Regions from separate parts of the Homo sapiens genome. Here region 2 is linked to region 1. The links come from fine-mapping of genetic effects on gene expression. Tissue or cell type: whole blood. Region 1 holds a variant in brackets; the other region holds the start of a gene. All regions are shown on one strand. Distances are from middle to middle.

Region 1 (8,000 bases):
GATTCCACCAGGGTGTATAGTGCTGTCTGTGGACACAGCAGACCAAGATAAGGAAACGGCCCAGCACCACCAGGCTTCCCTCGAGCTCCTTCCCCGCCCAGATGCCAGCAGCCACCAGTCTGTTCCCTCATAGCCCTGCCTGTTCCGACCACCCTCTCTGTGGAGCCACGGCCTGTGGTCTGCACTGGCCTGAGTCCCGGGCCTGTTGCCTGTGGGTAGGGTCCCGCCATCCAGTATTCACGCTGTAGCCAGGTCATGGGCATTTGAACTCTTCCCACTTCCTGGCAATTGTAAATAAGGCCACACAGGCCTGCGTGGGTAGGCGTTTCCTCTCCCCTGGGCACCTTCCCAGGAAGAAGGTTTTGGGTTTTAGTGGAGCTGGTCCAGGCGGCTGGTCCTGCCATGTGAAAATGGTCCAGGTGGGCTGGTCCTGCCTTGTGAAAAGGGCTACTTGAGTGCAGCCGCCGGCTTCTCTCTTCCCCGGCTCGACCTTCCACCAGCAGCCAGCTGGGTCCTGCCGGGGCGCTGGTCCTGTCTTGGCCCTGAGTCCTGCTCTCCGGGCAGGTTTATCCACCAGGTGAACCAGGCCACTGTCACCATCCAGCGCTGGTACCGGCACCAGGTGCAGCGGCGCGGAGCAGGAGCTGCCCGCCTGGAGCACTTGCTTCAGGCCAAGCGGGAGGTCAGTGTGGGCGTCTCAGTCACTCCATGCTCCCCCGGGGGGTCTGGCCCAGAATCCCAGGGGTTTGAGTTTCTGGGACAGGTGGAATCAAAGCCTAGGATTGCTCGTGGGCCCCGTCTCTGGGTGCAGCATCCTTCTTGACCCTGGGTCCCCGCGGACAGTCAGGGTGGTCCTCACTGGCGGTCCTCAGGGCCTGGGTGTCAGGAAACGCCTGCTGGGTCCATCCCAGGCTGGAGAGTCTCAGGAGGACGTTCTGTGGGGGCAGAGCTGTCTCCCCCACGCCAGAACTGTTGGCCACCTGCGACGTAGGGCTCATCCTCTGTAGAGCAGAGAAATGGCAGGTTCAAGGTCCTGGTGGGGTTTCACTTTCCCTGCTGGCCCTGAGATTCCACGAACTCTAGGGGACTCCAGGGCGTTGTGGGGAAACCTCTGGTCTGGGTCTGGATTCCGTCTTCCAGATGTAAACGCCACATGGCACCGGCTTCTTTGGCAGGAGCAGCGGCAGCGGTCAGGCGAGGGGACCCTCTTGGACCTGCACCAGCAGAAAGAGGCAGCCAGGAGGAAGGCCCGGGAGGAGAAGGCACGCCAAGCCAGGCGAGCAGCCATTCAGGTGCTGACCGCGCAGGGACCACTGAGCAGCACCGTGGCCCAGGCCTGACCGTGCGGGGCTGCTGCTGGGGCTCCCTGGGCCCCGGGACACTTAGCCTCAGGGCAGCTTGGCTGTGGAGCCTGGGGTCGTCCTCTCCCAGGGACAGTGCTCAGCGATGCTCCCACTGCAGGAGCTGCAACAGAAACGAGCCCTGAGAGCCCAGAAGGCGAGCACTGCCGAGCGTGGGCCACCTGAGAATCCCAGGGAGACCAGAGTGCCAGGAATGCGGCAGCCTGCTCAGGAGCTGTCCCCCACACCAGGCGGCACTGCCCACCAGGCCCTCAAGGCCAACAATACTGGTGAGAGTGGCTCCACGCCCGCCCTGCTCTGGGGGGTGGACTGCAGCCAGGAAGGAAGTGCAGCCCTTGTGGACCTCCTCTCGGCCTCCTGTGCTGCTGCCCATGTTGGCGGCCCCAGTCCTCGGAGTTAGGGGCCTTGGCCCCCAGCTGACCTGACGAGGGTGCCGAGACCTTGACAATCAAATGGTCCTGGACGTAGGGATCCCTACAGAGTAGAAGGCCCGGAAGGGAGGGGTGGCACTCATCCTCCACAGCTCCACACCCAGAAGGCCGTGGCTCCCCAGCGGCTCCTCTGCTTCTGGGGTCGCCTCCGCCTCCCCCATGCCTGGCTCCTTCCCGGGGGTGCCTCCAGAGTTGCTGCCCGCCCCGGGATGCTCCCTGTGGAATGGTGCTGTGTTCTGCTGTGCAGGTGGTGGCCTCCCTGCTGCAGGCCCCGGAGACCGCTGCCTGCCCACCTCCGACTCATCCCCAGAACCACAGCAGCCTCCAGAGGACAGGACGCAGGTCTGAGCACAGCTGTCCTTCACTCCATCATGGTTTTTGGCTTTAAGGGCCATGTCTGTGCCAGGGGTGTCCTGAGCTGAGCTTCTCCCAGCCCCTCCTCTGCTCTAGGGGCCACTTAAGCTCAGAGAGGCCACCCAGGAGGTGTCTTCTTGCTCTGATGCATGGTGCTGGCTGCCTCTTGGGGAGCCTTTGCTGGGGTGGATCCAGTTGGGTTTTTGCAGATGTCCTGGGGTGGGGGGCCTTGCATCCTCATCCACAAAAGAGGAGCTTCCGGCTCTGAGGGGTGACCTGACAGCCAAGGCTCCCAGGCTGCTCAATGGTGGGGCCAGGTGGCTGCACTCCTGTTTTCCTGGAGTGGGGCACTGGGAGGAGTCCCCTGGTGGCTGGAGCTGCTCTGGGTTTGAGCAGCTGCAGAGACCGGGTGGGAAGGTCTGAGCCCTGGCCTCACCTTCCTGGGGCTGAATGTCGGGACTGGGGAGCTCCCGCGGCGCCTTTGGGGCTCTGCGGTTGGCCTCCTATGTGGGGGCTGCTCTCAGCTACCAGCAGCCTTGCTGCATCTGTCTCCCTGCTCTTTTGCAGGACGTTCTTGCCCAGGATGCAGCTGGGGACAACCTGGAGATGATGGCCCCGAGCAGGGGGAGCGCCAAGTCCAGGGGGCCACTGGAGGAGCTGCTGCACACACTGCAGCTGCTGGAGAAGGAGCCGGACGTGCTGCCCCGCCCCAGGACCCATCACAGGGGCAGATACGCCTGGGCCAGCGAGGTGACCACGGTGTGCGCCCGCCCTGCACAGTCTGTCCACCCACGCCATTCACACAGAGCATGCGGTGGCTGTGGGGGTTGGGAAAATGGGGATGCCACAGGCTCCTCCTGGCTTTAGTCACAACCCTCCCTCCCAGAGCCCAGCCTCAGCTGCCACCTCTGCCTTTGGGGAACCCAAGTCCTCAGGCTGCCCTGACAGCCCCCGATGCTGGGCTCCTGTCCCACAGGAGGATGACGCCAGCTCTCTGACAGCTGACAACTTGGAGAAATTTGGAAAACTCAGTGCGTTCCCCGAACCTCCTGAGGATGGGACGCTGCTATCGGAGGCCAAGCTACAAAGCATCATGAGCTTCTTGGACGAGATGGAGAAGTCTGGGCAGGACCAGCTGGACTCCCAGCAGGAGGTGGCCCCTCACCAGCCCGCACCCGGCCCCCAGTGGGAGGAGGCCCCTCACGAGCCTGCACCTGGCCCTCGGGGGAGGAGGCCCCTCACCAGCCCGCACCTGGCCCCCAGGGGGAGGAGGTCTCTCGCCAGCCCCCACCCGGCCCCCAGCAGGAGGTGGTCCCTCACCATGTACCCACCTAGTTATGCAGCACCCCCCACGGGTCTCTCAGGGTGGAGGTGGCAGGGCCCGCATTCCCCATACTGCCCCCACCTACCCGCTGCCCCGAGCTGCCTCCACGAGCCCATATGTGTGGATAGTTCAGCCCTCTGGAGCCCTGCTGTCCTCTGGGTTGGTTTGTCCTGGGTGAACACTAGCGGCCAGGCTAAATGGAGCAGTGACGTGAACTTTATTGTCACAGGGCAGGAAGCTGGGCAGCATAGAACTTTTTAAATGGTTTGTTTTTTATTCCTGAGGCCACGGCCCCCATTTCCTGTACTGAGCAATGAAAACGACCTCTGCTGGGCCGCCTGCCACCTG[C/A]CCTCCGGCTTCCCACGGGCTCCCGTGTGCAGCAGCCCCTCTGTCCCCAGAGGGCAGGGCCGCAGGGGCATCGTGTCAGGTCCTTGGCTGCCCCCCGTCCTCTGCCGCTTCCGCCTGACGCTCGGCTGTGTCTGCAGGGGTGGGTGCCGGAGGCGGGGCCGGGGCCCCTGGAGCTGGGGTCCGAGGTGAGCACGTCTGTGATGCGGCTGAAGCTGGAGGTGGAGGAGAAGAAGCAGGCCATGCTGCTGCTGCAGAGAGCGCTGGTAACGCTGCTGGCACTGCTAATCCCGGGCCCTGCTAGCCTCCTACCTGCTGAGGCCAGGCCCACCGGTCCTAGCGCTTCCCTCCTCTGCCCACACCCTGCAGGCGCAGCAGCGAGACCTCACGGCCCGGCGGGTCAAGGAGACAGAGAAGGCGCTGAGCCGGCAGCTGCAGCGGCAGAGGGAGCACTACGAGGCCACCATCCAGCGGCACTTGGCCTTCATTGACCAGGTGAGCGGCCCGGGGAGCGCAGAGGCCCGGACCCAGCGCGTGGCTCATGGAGACTTCCAGAGCCAGGGGCTTCCCACTGCCAGGGAGCTTCTTCCTCTGTTGGGTGTCACACGGGTGTCCGCTGGACGCATTCCAAGCCTTTCCCATGCCATTCCCAGCCATGCATGCCCTGGAGAGGGCACTCCTGTCTTTATCCAGAGCCGCCCCGTGTGAGTGTAGTGGGGTGTCCTGCCGGCCCCTCAGCTCAGTCGCAGCCCCGGTTGGCTCCTGTTCTGAAGAGAAGAGACCTAGAGTTGGTCTGGGGTGTGTGAGAATAGGGGCCTCCAGGGCTGCTTGATAGTTGTCACAGGTGTGTCCTGACCTGGGGTCTGGCCTGGGGCCGGCAGTGAGGCTGGTGTGGTCCTGACACCCTTTGGCAGACAGTGAGCCTCCTCCAGGGCTGGGTGATGGCCTCGGCAGAGCTACCCTCATCCCAGGAAGACCCTGACATCACTGCAGGGGGTGGGCTGGGGCTTCTCTGACATTCGCCGGGTCCCCCAGCTGAGGACAGGACGGCGGATGCAGGCCTGGGCCCGTGTTTGCACACGTGCCCCCCCACTGGCCCCAGGGTCCATCCACAAACCTAGGAGGGGCAGCCCCAGGGGAGGGCTGCTGTTAGCCTCCCTCGGAGGCTGGGAGGGTCTCCTCCATCAGGGGTCCTGCTGGGCTGGGGCCTTGGTGTAGCACCTCACCTCCGGTCCCCAACACAGCTGATTGAGGACAAGAAGGTCCTGAGTGAAAAGTGCGAGGCTGTGGTGGCCGAGCTGAAGCAGGAGGACCAGAGATGCACCGAGCGTGTGGCCCAGGCACAGGCGCAGCACGAGCTGGTGAGGCTTTGCTCCCTACTGCACGGCGTCCCAAGCCCGGCTCACAGGCCAGGCTCAGCTGGCACAGCCCCCAGAACAGGACCGGACTTGGAGTCCTCATTCCTGTCTCGGTGTGTCAGGGCCACAGCGGTGGGTGGGGCTGTCTGGGGGAGCACCGTGGCACCGAGCTGGTCCACTCCTGCCTCTCTAGCTGCCAGGCTCTGGGGCGGGGCCGTGGGCCTGCTGTCACAGATGTGGACGCACAGTCCCTGCCCGGCCACAGCACGGTAGCCGTGGACCCAGGAGCCTCTGCCTGGTCTGCCCCACTGCCAGGTCCTTGGGCCATGGGACCTGCTCTCTCTACTGACCAGGTGTCGGTGGAGCATTGACTCCCCGCCCCTTCCCGCTGTGTGAGCTCCCTGGGGGCCTCAGCCTCCCTGGCTATGCTTCCCACCAGCTTGGGCAGTGATGGTCCCGAGCCCAGGTTCTGGAGTGGGGCTTGGCACTGGCATTTTAAAATCCCTGCACGTGACTGTGGCTGACAGCCGGGGTTGAGGACTGCCAGTCCCATGGAAGAATGCAGGCTCTGGGGCCGTCCCGACAGGCAGCAGCACCCCTCTCTGGGGCAAGGCCTCTGCAGGCTGATGGCTGCCCTCCCATGTCTCAGGCCACCAAGGTGTGTGGCAGGGTGGGCCTGGGCCTCCAGCCTGGCCCCGGGCGCTGGGGAGGGCAGCAGTGGCTCTGTCTCGGGGCAGCACACCCAACCATGAGTGCCGGCCTTGTGCTGGTGGACCTGGAAGCCCGGCCCTGACTGTGCCCACAGGGTGGCAAAGGGACGGGGGTGTCCTTCGTGTCGTTTCCTCCTGCCCTGTTCTGCTCGTAGGAGATTAAAAAACTCAAAGAATTAATGAGCGCCACCGAGAAAGCCCGCCGGGAGAAGTGGATCAGTGAGAAAACCAAGAAGATCAAGGAGGTCACTGTCCGAGGTGGGCCCTCCCCTCCCATGAGCCGGCCAGGTGTGGGGTGGGTGCTGCGGCCAGGGCTTCTTTTGAGAGAGCCATAACTTCAGGCATTCATGTAGTCCGAGACCTTCCTGGGCAGAGGTGAACACTCATGCCCCAACCACCCCCGTCACGGCCTCCGCTGCGGCTTCTGCCGTGACCCGGGGGGCAGGTGGGCTCCACACAGGAGCCTGGCCCAGCCCCCAGCATCTAGGCAGTTGCCTGAAACGAGGGGGCTCAGTGCCTCACTTCCTCAGGGTTGGGCTAGGGGAGATTGGGAGTTTGTGGACGACTGTGGCACGTGGGCCCTGCCACGGGAAGCAGAGTGAGCCACAGGAGGAGGCAGGGGCAGGCAGGCGGATGGGGCAGGAGGCTGGTGGGTGTTGTGGTCTGAAGGGGCCTCGGACCCTTGGGTGATGTGCAGGGCTCCCCGAGGCCTGGTCCTCTCGCTCTGGACACCTGCCAGGGTGCCTGGGAGCCGTCAGTGGTAGCACCAGGAGTGTCAGGAGCCCTGAGCCCCACAGGCTGGGAGAGGCGCCGTGGCCCTGTGGGGGTCTCTTCCCCACCTCGTGGGCGTCAAGACTCAGCTGTGCTTCGGGTTGGATCCAAGGAGGCCCTGGGTGGGCGGGGTCCCCTCTGGGCCTGAGACAGGCTGGTCTTGTGCCAGGGTTGGACTTCCCGGGCCCACCCTAGCTGGACGTGGCCCTAGCTGGTGCCCCGCCCCCAGGTCTGGAGCCCGAGATCCAGAAGCTGATTGCAAGGCACAAGCAGGAAGTGCGGAGGCTCAAGAGCCTGCACGAGGCGGAGCTGCTGCAGTCGGATGAGCGGGCCTCGCAGCGCTGCCTGCGCCAGGCCGAGGAGCTGCGGGAGCAGCTGGAGCGGGAGAAGGAGGCGCTGGGCCAGCAGGAGCGCGAACGTGCTCGGCAGCGGTGGGTGGTGGCCCCAGGCCGGTGGGGCCAGGACCCTCAGGGCGGGGAGTCGGAATCCTCGAAGGCTGGAGTGGAGTTCCCATGTAGAGGTGGGCGAGGGTCTTAGTGCAGCATGCAGGGAGGACGCAGGGCCCTTGGCCCTGGAGTGGCCCTTGGGGGCCCAGCCTCAGCCGGGCCAGTGTCCTCGGGCTTGTGTCTGCAGTTCATGCCCGCCGAGGTCTGCAGGTTCTGCATGGGTGCACGGGTGTTTTCCCAGGGTCAGGGCTGGGAACCCCCACCAGACATCCACTCTTTCACAACTGGCCCCAGAGCAGCAACCCGTGGATAGGCGGCCTCGAGGCCCCTCCAGCTCTGACCTTGGGGCCCAGGGACGGTCTCTCTCATTCACTCCCTTGGCCTGGGGTCTGAGGGGTGACTGCTGCTCTTGCGTCCTGAGCCCTGGGGGCTGGGGACGTGCCCAGTGGTGGTCAGGATCTGCGGGCCACAGGGGGCAGTGGCAGCCCCTCCTGCACTGTCTGCGCCACCAGGACAGCCTGGAAGCCACCCTCTCCTATCCACCCTGTTGCCTGTCGTGGCTGGTCCTCCCCAGATGCAGCTTGGCTGGTCCCCCAGTCTCTCCTCGAAGGTGGGGTCAGGACGAGGCCCTGGCGCGAGCTTGCTCAGGTCACGGAGCCAGGCACCTGGCACCCTCAGGCCGGAGGCAGGGGAGGTGGATAAGGCCCCACGAGGCACCTGCCTCCCGCCCTCCATGCCCGTGGGGCAATGCTGAACAGGGTGAGGCCGGCACACGGGCTGAGGGAAAAGGGGGCCTGGACGCGGCTCCACAGCCACTTCCCAAAGTGCCACGAGGGCCTGGAGCTCAGGGAATTGCTGCGCTTGGCTGATGGGCAAGTTCCTCGTGGCCTTGCCTGCCCC
Region 2 (8,000 bases), 27 kb before region 1:
GTTTCTTTTTTTTTTTTTTTTTTTTTTTTTGAGACAGAGTCTCACTCTGTCACCCAGGCTGGAGTGCAGTGGCGCAATCTGGGCTCAGTGCAACCTCTGCCTCCCGGGTTCAAGCGATTCCCCTGCCTCAGCCTCCCGAGTAGCTGGGATTGATTACAGGCTCATGCCACCATGCCCGGCTAATGTTTTGTATTTTGGTAGAGATTGGGTTTCACCATGTTAGCCAGGATGGTCTCGATCTCCTGACCTTGTGATCCACCCTCCTCGGCCTCCCAAAGCACTGGGATTACAAACATGAGCCACAGCGCCCAGCCTTTTTCAGTTTCTTAAGGTGGAAGCTTAGATTATTTATCATGTCCTTTATTTTCTAATGTGAGCCTTGTAATGCTATAAACATTCCTGTGAACACTGCTTTGGCTGCATCCTATGAATTTTGGTACATTTAAATTGTTATTCAGCTCAAAATATTTTCAAATTTATCTTGAGACTTCCGTTTTGTCCAATGGGTTATTTTAAAGCATATTGTGTTATGATTTAATTCTGATATAGTCAGAGAACATATTTTATATGATTTCTGTTATATTGTTTAAAGATTTCAAGCCTAGGCAACATAGCAAGACCCCGTTTCTACAAAAAAAAAAAAAAAAAAAATTTAAATTAGCCAGGCATGGTCGCAGCTACCCAGGTGGCTGAGGCGGGAGGATTGCTTGAACTCCAGAGGTCAAGGCTGCAGTGAGCCATGATTGTGCCACTGCACTCTAGCTCTGTCACCTAGTGCAGTGGTGCAATCACAGCTCACTGCAGTCTCAACCTCCTGAGTTCAAGCAGTCCTAAGCAATCCTCATGCCTCAGTCACCACACATGGCCTTTTTTTTCTTTGGTAGAGATGGAGCTCTTGCTATGTTGCCCACGCTGGTCTCCAACTCCTGGCCTCATGCAATTCTCCCACCTCAATCTCCCAAAGTATTAGGATGACAGGCATGAGCTGCTGTGCCTGGCCTCACACTTTTGTTAAGGATTTCAAACTTTTGTTAAAGTTTGTTTTATGGCCAAGAATATAGTTTATCTTGGTGGATGTTCCATGTACACTTGGTCTAGAAAACTAGAGATCAATATCCTTCTGGAATATAGATGCAAAATTCCTCAAGAAAACAACAAAATGAATCCAGTAATATATAAAAAGTGTAATACATCACTATAAGTGGAATATATCCCAGGAATGCAAGGCTGTTTCAACCTATGAAAATCAGTGTAATTCAATCCATCATATTAACAGTAAAGAAAAATCACATGATCATTTTATGCAGAAAAAACAAGAAACAAATTCAACATTCACTCATGACCCAAAAACCCTCCCAAATTTGACAAATTAGAAATGTAAGAGATCTTTTGGGTGGCAAGGGGTTTCTGCAAAAACCCCTCAGCTGACATCATACTTAATGCTGAAGGACTGAATGCTTTTCCCCTATGATTGGAAAGAAGGCCATGGTGTGCATGCTAACCATTTCTGTTCAGCATTACACTGAAGCCCTGGCCAGTTCGATAAAGCAAGAAAAAACTAGAAAGCCAGACACATTAGAAAGGAAGAAATAAAACATACTATTCACAGAAAACAGGATTGTAGAAAATCCCGTGAAATCTACCAAAAACTTCCTAAGACTAAGAAGTGAGTTTAGCAAAGACACAGGCTCCAGGGTAAATATACTAACATCAGTTACACTTTTGTAATAGCAATAAACAATTGGAAATTAAACCATAAAAAACTACCATCTGTAATGGCACTCCAAAAATGAAATGATTAGGTATAAATTAGAAAGATATATGTAGGATGTGTATGCTGAAAACTTCAAAGTACTGATGAAAGAAATCAATGAAGATCTAAATAAGTGGAGAGATATACCATGTTCATAAATTCTGGTGTCAATTCTTCCAGGTTACAGGTCTACAGATTTAATGTAATCCCCATCAAAATCACAGCTGGATATTTTTTAAGATAGTGACAAGCTGAAACTCAAATTTATAGGAAAAGTCAAAAGAATTTGGATAGCCTAGGTAATTTGGAGAAAGAAGAACAAAGGACTCAAAACCTGATTTCAGGATTGACTCTAGGCCAGGTGCAGTGGCTCATGCCTGTAATCCCAGCACTTTGGGAGGTGAAGGTGGGAGAATTGCTTGAGCCTAGGAATTTGAGACTAGCCTGGGCAACATGTGAGACCCCATCTCTGCAACAACAACAACAACAAAAACACTAATCAAGACAATGTGGTAGGCCGGGCGCGGTGGCTCACGCCTGTAATCCCAGCACTTTGGGAGGCCAAGGCGGGCGGATCACGAGGTCAGGAGATCGAGACCATCCTGGCTAACACGGTGAAACCCCGTCTCTACTGAAAATACAAAAAAATTAGCCAGGCGTGGTGGCGGGCACCTGTAGTCCCAGCTACTCGGGAGGCTGAGGCAGAAGAATGGCGTGAACCCGGGAGGCGGAGCTTGCAGTGAGCTGAGATCGCGCCACTATGCTCCAGCCTGGGCAAAAATGCGAGACTCTGTTTCAAAAAAATAATAATAAATAAATAAATAAATAAGTAAACAAATAAAACCAATCCCTGACAATACCAAGAGCTGAGGAGGATGGGGAGCAACTGCAACACCTGTGGCACTGGTGGGAGCGTAGAGCTGTACAACTTCTTTGGAAAATAGCTTAGTAGGCCGATGTGGTGGCCCACGCCTGTAATCCCAGCACTTTGGGAGACCGAGGTGGGTGGATCACCTGAAGTCAGCAGTTCAAGACCAGCCTGGCCAATATGACAAAACCCTGTCTCTACTAAAAATACAAAAATTAGCCTGGCATGGTGACATGTGCCTGTAATACCAGCTACTCGGGAGGCTGAGGCAGGAGAATTGCTTGAGCCCAGGAAGTGGAGTTTGCAGTGAGCCAAGATCATGCCATTGCACTCCAGCCTGGGCGACAGAGGGAGACTCCATCTCGGAAAAAAAAGGAAAAAAAAGAAAAAGAAAATAGCTTGGCGGTTTCCTTTTTTTTTTCTTTTTCTTTTTTTTGAGATGGAGTCTTGCTCTGTCGCTCAGGCTGGAGTGCAGTGGTGATCTCCGCTCACCGCAATCTCTGCCTCCTGGGGTCAAGCGATTCTCCTGACTCAGCCTCCTGAGTAGCTGGGATTATAGGCAGACGCCACCAGGCACGGGTAATTTTTTTGTATTTTTACTAGAGACGGGGTTTTGCCATGTTGGCCAGGGTGATCTCGAACTCCTGACCTCAGGTGATCCGCCCACCTCAGTGTCCCAAAGTTCTGGAATTACAGGTGGGACCCACTGCGCCCGGCCGGCAGTTTCTTATAAACAATCATTTGATCCAGCAACCCCACTCCTGGGTATTTACACAAGAGAAATGAAAAGTTGTGTCCACACAGAAGCCGATGAGTGAATGTTTATGGCAGCGTCATTCATAATTGCCAAGCACCAGGAACAATCTCTGCGTCCTTCATTTGATGAATAAAACCATCAATAAATAAAACCATCTGAACCGGTGGTTCACACCGGTTACAGGATACCACTCAGCAATAAAGAGGAACCAGCATGAATCTCAAAATGCGAAGTGGTAGAAGCCAGACCCACAGGCGCGCTGCGCGACATCCCTTTTGTGTGACATTCTGGAAAAGGCTGCCTCTAGGGATGGAGAACAGAGAGAACTGAGCAGCCGCCACCAGCAGTCAGCAGGTACGGGATCCGGAGGGAGAATGTTCTGTAACTAAAGTTACACAACTCCACTGCACACCAAAAAATGTGGATTTTACTGAAACCAAACTTTTTATTTTACAGAGCACTGGACTTTTTAAAAAGCGGGGGCAGGGGAGACCAGTGTGCTGTGACTTTTAGGGGAAGGATGGCTTCCCTGGAGAGGACCTGGGCGGAATCCCCAGGGCTCCCGGAGAGAGGGGGAGTCACAGAGCGGCTACGCACGGGGCGCAGCGTTAAAACTTTGGAGAAGGAAAAAAAACAACAAAGCAGCGCGAAGGGAAGGAGGTCAGGGAGGTTAGCAAGGCGCCCACACGCCCTCGCAGTCGTACTGAGTAACGAGGGGAGTCGCGCACGTGGGTGGGGACAGAGCGGCCTAGGACACTGGGGGAGCCCCGGGCCGCGGGAGTGCGGCGGCCTGGGGGTGTCGGGGAGCCGAGCCGAGGCCGCGTGCTCCTCGCGCCCTCCCTGGTGTCTCCTCCCCAGGCCCTGCGTGCCCCGCCCACACCTGCCTTGCCCCGCCCACATCTGCCTCGCCCTACTCGCCCATCACACCCCCACCTCACGCCCCGCCCACAACCGCTGGGGCCCCGCCCCTGCCCGGCCAGCTCCTCCCGCCGCCCTCGGTCCCCCGCCCCCTATATGACCCGCCCCTTTCCAGCCGCGTCCAATCGGCCGCTCTCTGTAGTCGCGTCCCTCAGCCATCCGCCGCTCCTCCCACGCTTGAACTTCCCGAAGGACAGCCGAGCGGCCCAATGAGCTCCCGGGACGGCCTGAGCGGGAGCGTGAAGGGCCAATCCGGAGTCGGCGCGCGCAGGAAAGGCGGGCCGGCGTGACGGGCTGGGGAGGTGGTGCCAGGCTGGTTGCTAGCTGCCGCCGCTGCTCACCCCGGCCGTCCGGCCGCTTCATTGTCACCGGGCCTCGGGGCAGTGTTGGGGGTGGCGGGGCGCCAGGTCGCCGACCCGAGGTTTGGGCGCGACTGGTTCCGCATCCCCTCCCCGCCGGCCGAATCTGCAGGCCCCGCGCGCCAGGCAGGCTTCGCGGCTGCGCCCCCGGCCCGCGCAGGTGAGGGGGGCCCGGGCAAGGGAGGGGGTTGCAGGGCGCACGGAGGTTGGAGGGGTCCGGAGCCCGCGCAGGTGGGAGGCCCTGGTCCAGTGATGAAGTGATGGGGATCCGGGGCACGCACAGGTGAGTGGGGGGATCTGGTGCCCGCGCAATTGAAGGCGGGATCCGGGGGAAGTGAGGGGGATCCAGGGTGCGCACAGGTGAGGGAGGTCCGGGGCCCGCGCAGGTGAAGACAGGCTCGTGCCTGAGGGTGTGGGTCCCCACCTCCATCCCCTCCACCCTCTCCACCTCCCTCCACTCCCCTCCGGTCCCCAGGACAACATGGAGTCCAGTCCCGGCATCTCTGGCCCGGCTGCCTTAAGCCCTGGGGAAAATGGGGAGATGGGAGCTGCCCTGAGGACAAGTGGAGGGCTCTGCTCTGCGCGTGGGCTCTGGCCTCTCTGTCCAGGGTCAGGGTCAGGGTCAGGGTCAGCCCACCCTGGGAACCAGGTCCTGGCGCTGGTCATCAGTCCCCGCCCCTTCAGGTCCTGGGAGGGACACAGTTTTATCCAAGATGTAGTGGCCTCCCAGGCCTCCCTTCTTCTGGCTTGGAGGTTTCCATGGAGAGGCCCCGTTCGCCATCCCAGAGCCGCTTGCAAGTGTGGCTGGGAGAGCAGAGTCCTGGGCTCCAAGGGCTTGCATGGGTCCAGCCAGGGGTGGACAGTGCCCTGCAGGAGGAGGGTGTTAAGTTTCTTCCGCACAGCCGGAAGTGCATAACTGAGGACTGGGACCTGGTCAGTGGCAGGGTCAGCCTCTAGGGAGTAGGGGTATCCATCGCTCCGTGGAAGGGACCTTGGGGGACCTGCTGTGGGGTGCCGGGCTGAAGGAAGCCCAGGGTGACCTTGGGCGATAGGCTGGGTGCCTGCTGGCCTACTGGAGGCCACCGTGGCAGGGAGGTAATTCTCGAGGTTGGTCCCTGGCGCCAGCTTCTCCCGTTCATCTACGGGTTCAGCTGAGTGCCTTTCCCTGCAGGTGCTGGGGTTGCTCAGGAGCCACACAATTCATAAACCAACTGTGTGCGGCCACAGGAAGGGAGTCCGAGCCGGATGGGGAGTGAAGAGTGATGGGTGCTCAAGGAAGGCCTCTGAGTGCAGGGAGGGAGTGTCCTGAGACCTAGAGGCAGGGGACTGGCCGGGGCCAAGCTGGCTGAGTTTGAGGAGAACCAGGGAGGCTGTGTTGGCTAAAGCCACAACAAAGGGGCACAGCAGGGGAGCTGGCGAGGTCACAGAGAGTACAGGGCCAGATCTTGCAGGAGTTGGATGTGTAGACTTTATTCTCTGTGCCTAGGAAGCTGTTGCAGGGTTTTTGGCAGGGGCACATGCACGAGCTGAGACCCGTTCAGAAAGATCAGAAAGACTCGTTCAGAAAGAGGTGCCATGTGGGGACGGGCTGGGGGCCGGCAGGGTTTGCTCTGAGAAGTTCCAAAGTAAGGAAGCCAGCATCCCCAAGCTAATCCCCTCGATCGATCGTCAGAACCCCCGTCCCCTGCTGGAATAACACATTACCCAGGGAGTGTTTGCCCGGTGCAGCCTTGAGGCCTTGAGACCAGCATCTTGTCTGGACCTCACAAAACCACTCCCGCGTTTTTTTTTTTTTTTTTTTTTTGAGATGGAGTCTCGCTATGTTGCCCAGGCTGGAGTGCAGTGTCACGATCTTGGCTCACTGTAAACTCCGCCTACCAGGTTCAAGTAATTCCCCTGCTTCAGCCTCCCAAGTAGTTGGGATTACAGGCGCTCGCCACCACGCCCGGCTAATTTTTTGAAGTTTTTAGTAGAGGTGGGGTTTCACTGTGTTGCTTAGGCTGGTCTTGAACTCCTGAGCTCAGGCAATCTGCCTGCCTTGGTCTCCCAAAGTGCTGGGATTACAGGAGTGAGCCACTGTGCCCGGCCAACACGCAACCCCTTTTTAAAATGTGTATTTTTACTTAGGGGCCGGGTACGGTGGCTCATGCCTGTAATCCCAGCACTTTGGGAGGCCGAGGCAGGCGAATCACCTGAGGTCAGGAGTTCGAGACCAGCCTGGCCAACATGGCAAAACCCCGTTTCTACTTCTACTAAAAATACAAAAATTAGCCAGGCGTGGTGGCGGGCACCTGTAATCCCAGCTACTCAGGAGGCTGAGGCAGGAGAATCGCTTGAACCCGGGAGGCAGAGGTGGCAATGAGCCGAGATCGCGCCACTGCACTCCAGCCTGGGTGACAAGAACGAGACTCTGTTTCAAAAACATAATAAAATAAAAAATAAATCAAATGTCCCTTTTACAGAAGAAAACAGTGGGGCTCGGGGCAGTGACTTTCTCAGAATCACGGTGTGGGGTAGATGGCAGAACCTGGCTCACATCGACAATGGCCTGTGGCCCAGGCTCCCTCTGGGGTGCTGCTGGCTTATTCCCACCCACGGGCCTTGCCCTCGCCACCCACCTGTCCATCATCCAGGGCCCTCCTGCCCTGGCATACACTGACATTGGGCTCAGAACAGCTCCCTCATGTTCCTGTCGAGGAGCCTGCCACCAGCCAGAGGGGTGCATAGGTTGTGACAGGCCTTCCCAGGAAGTTTGGTGGCCAGTGGACCCAGCTGAGGCTGGGCTGGAGATGGTGGGTGCAGGGGACTGTAGTTCCCCCACGGCATCTCATTGCAGCTCTTGCTTCCCCGCTCAGGACCTGCCTTGTCCACCATGAAAGGCACCCGGGCCATCGGCAGCGTCCCGGAGCGCAGCCCAGCAGGTGTGGACCTGAGTCTGACAGGTCTCCCTCCGCCTGTGTCCCGGCGTCCTGGCAGTGCCGCCACCACCAAGCCCATCGTCCGCTCTGTCTCCGTGGTCACAGGCAGCGAGCAGAAGAGGAAGGTGCTGGTGAGTACTGTGGCCTAGGAGTCCGGGCCCCTGCCTCCTGGAGGGCTGTTGTTCAGTTGGCATCTGACCCCTGGGTCCAGCTCCACAGGTGAACAAGTGCCTCACATCTGGACATGCTGGATCCTCGTGGCTGTTCCAGGAGGCAGGTAGGACTTGAGTCTTACAGGCGTGGGTGCTGAATCACTAGAAAGTCAAGCCAGAGCTTGGATTCTTTCAGCAACAGCCCCAGGCCTCCTGTGCCACCGCCCTTTGGATTTGTTTGAATCCTCAGGAAATGGGGTTGGCTGGGCTCGGTG

Evidence for each region. PIP is the estimated chance that this variant, and not a neighbour inherited with it, causes the effect.
Region 2: it holds the start of CEP131, and the variant in region 1 is fine-mapped to the expression of CEP131 in whole blood (TOPMed, PIP above 0.99). The same link has a PIP of 0.9 or more in aorta, blood mononuclear cells, esophagus muscle, lung, sigmoid colon and subcutaneous fat.

The regions. Positions count from the first base shown.
Region 1 is chr17:81,193,011-81,201,010 of GRCh38, reverse strand. It overlaps CEP131 (centrosomal protein 131), which reads left to right. Exons shown (of 26, transcript NM_014984.4): 8 at 565-682; 9 at 1,176-1,292; 10 at 1,462-1,630; 11 at 2,040-2,134; 12 at 2,714-2,896; 13 at 3,123-3,299; 14 at 3,956-4,081; 15 at 4,185-4,310; 16 at 5,060-5,176; 17 at 6,039-6,141; 18 at 6,884-7,085. Among named protein-coding and RNA genes, the nearest start is that of CEP131, 26 kb to the left of the region's middle. RefSeq lists an enhancer at 7,375-8,000. The variant C/A (reference allele first, on the strand shown) is at 3,819.
Region 2 is chr17:81,219,584-81,227,583 of GRCh38, reverse strand. CEP131 (centrosomal protein 131) reads left to right here and starts at 4,619. Exons shown (of 26, transcript NM_014984.4): 1 at 4,619-4,815; 2 at 7,511-7,704. The coding sequence starts at 7,528. RefSeq lists silencers at 4,027-4,396, 4,557-4,886 and enhancers at 4,248-4,917, 4,918-5,587, 5,588-6,258.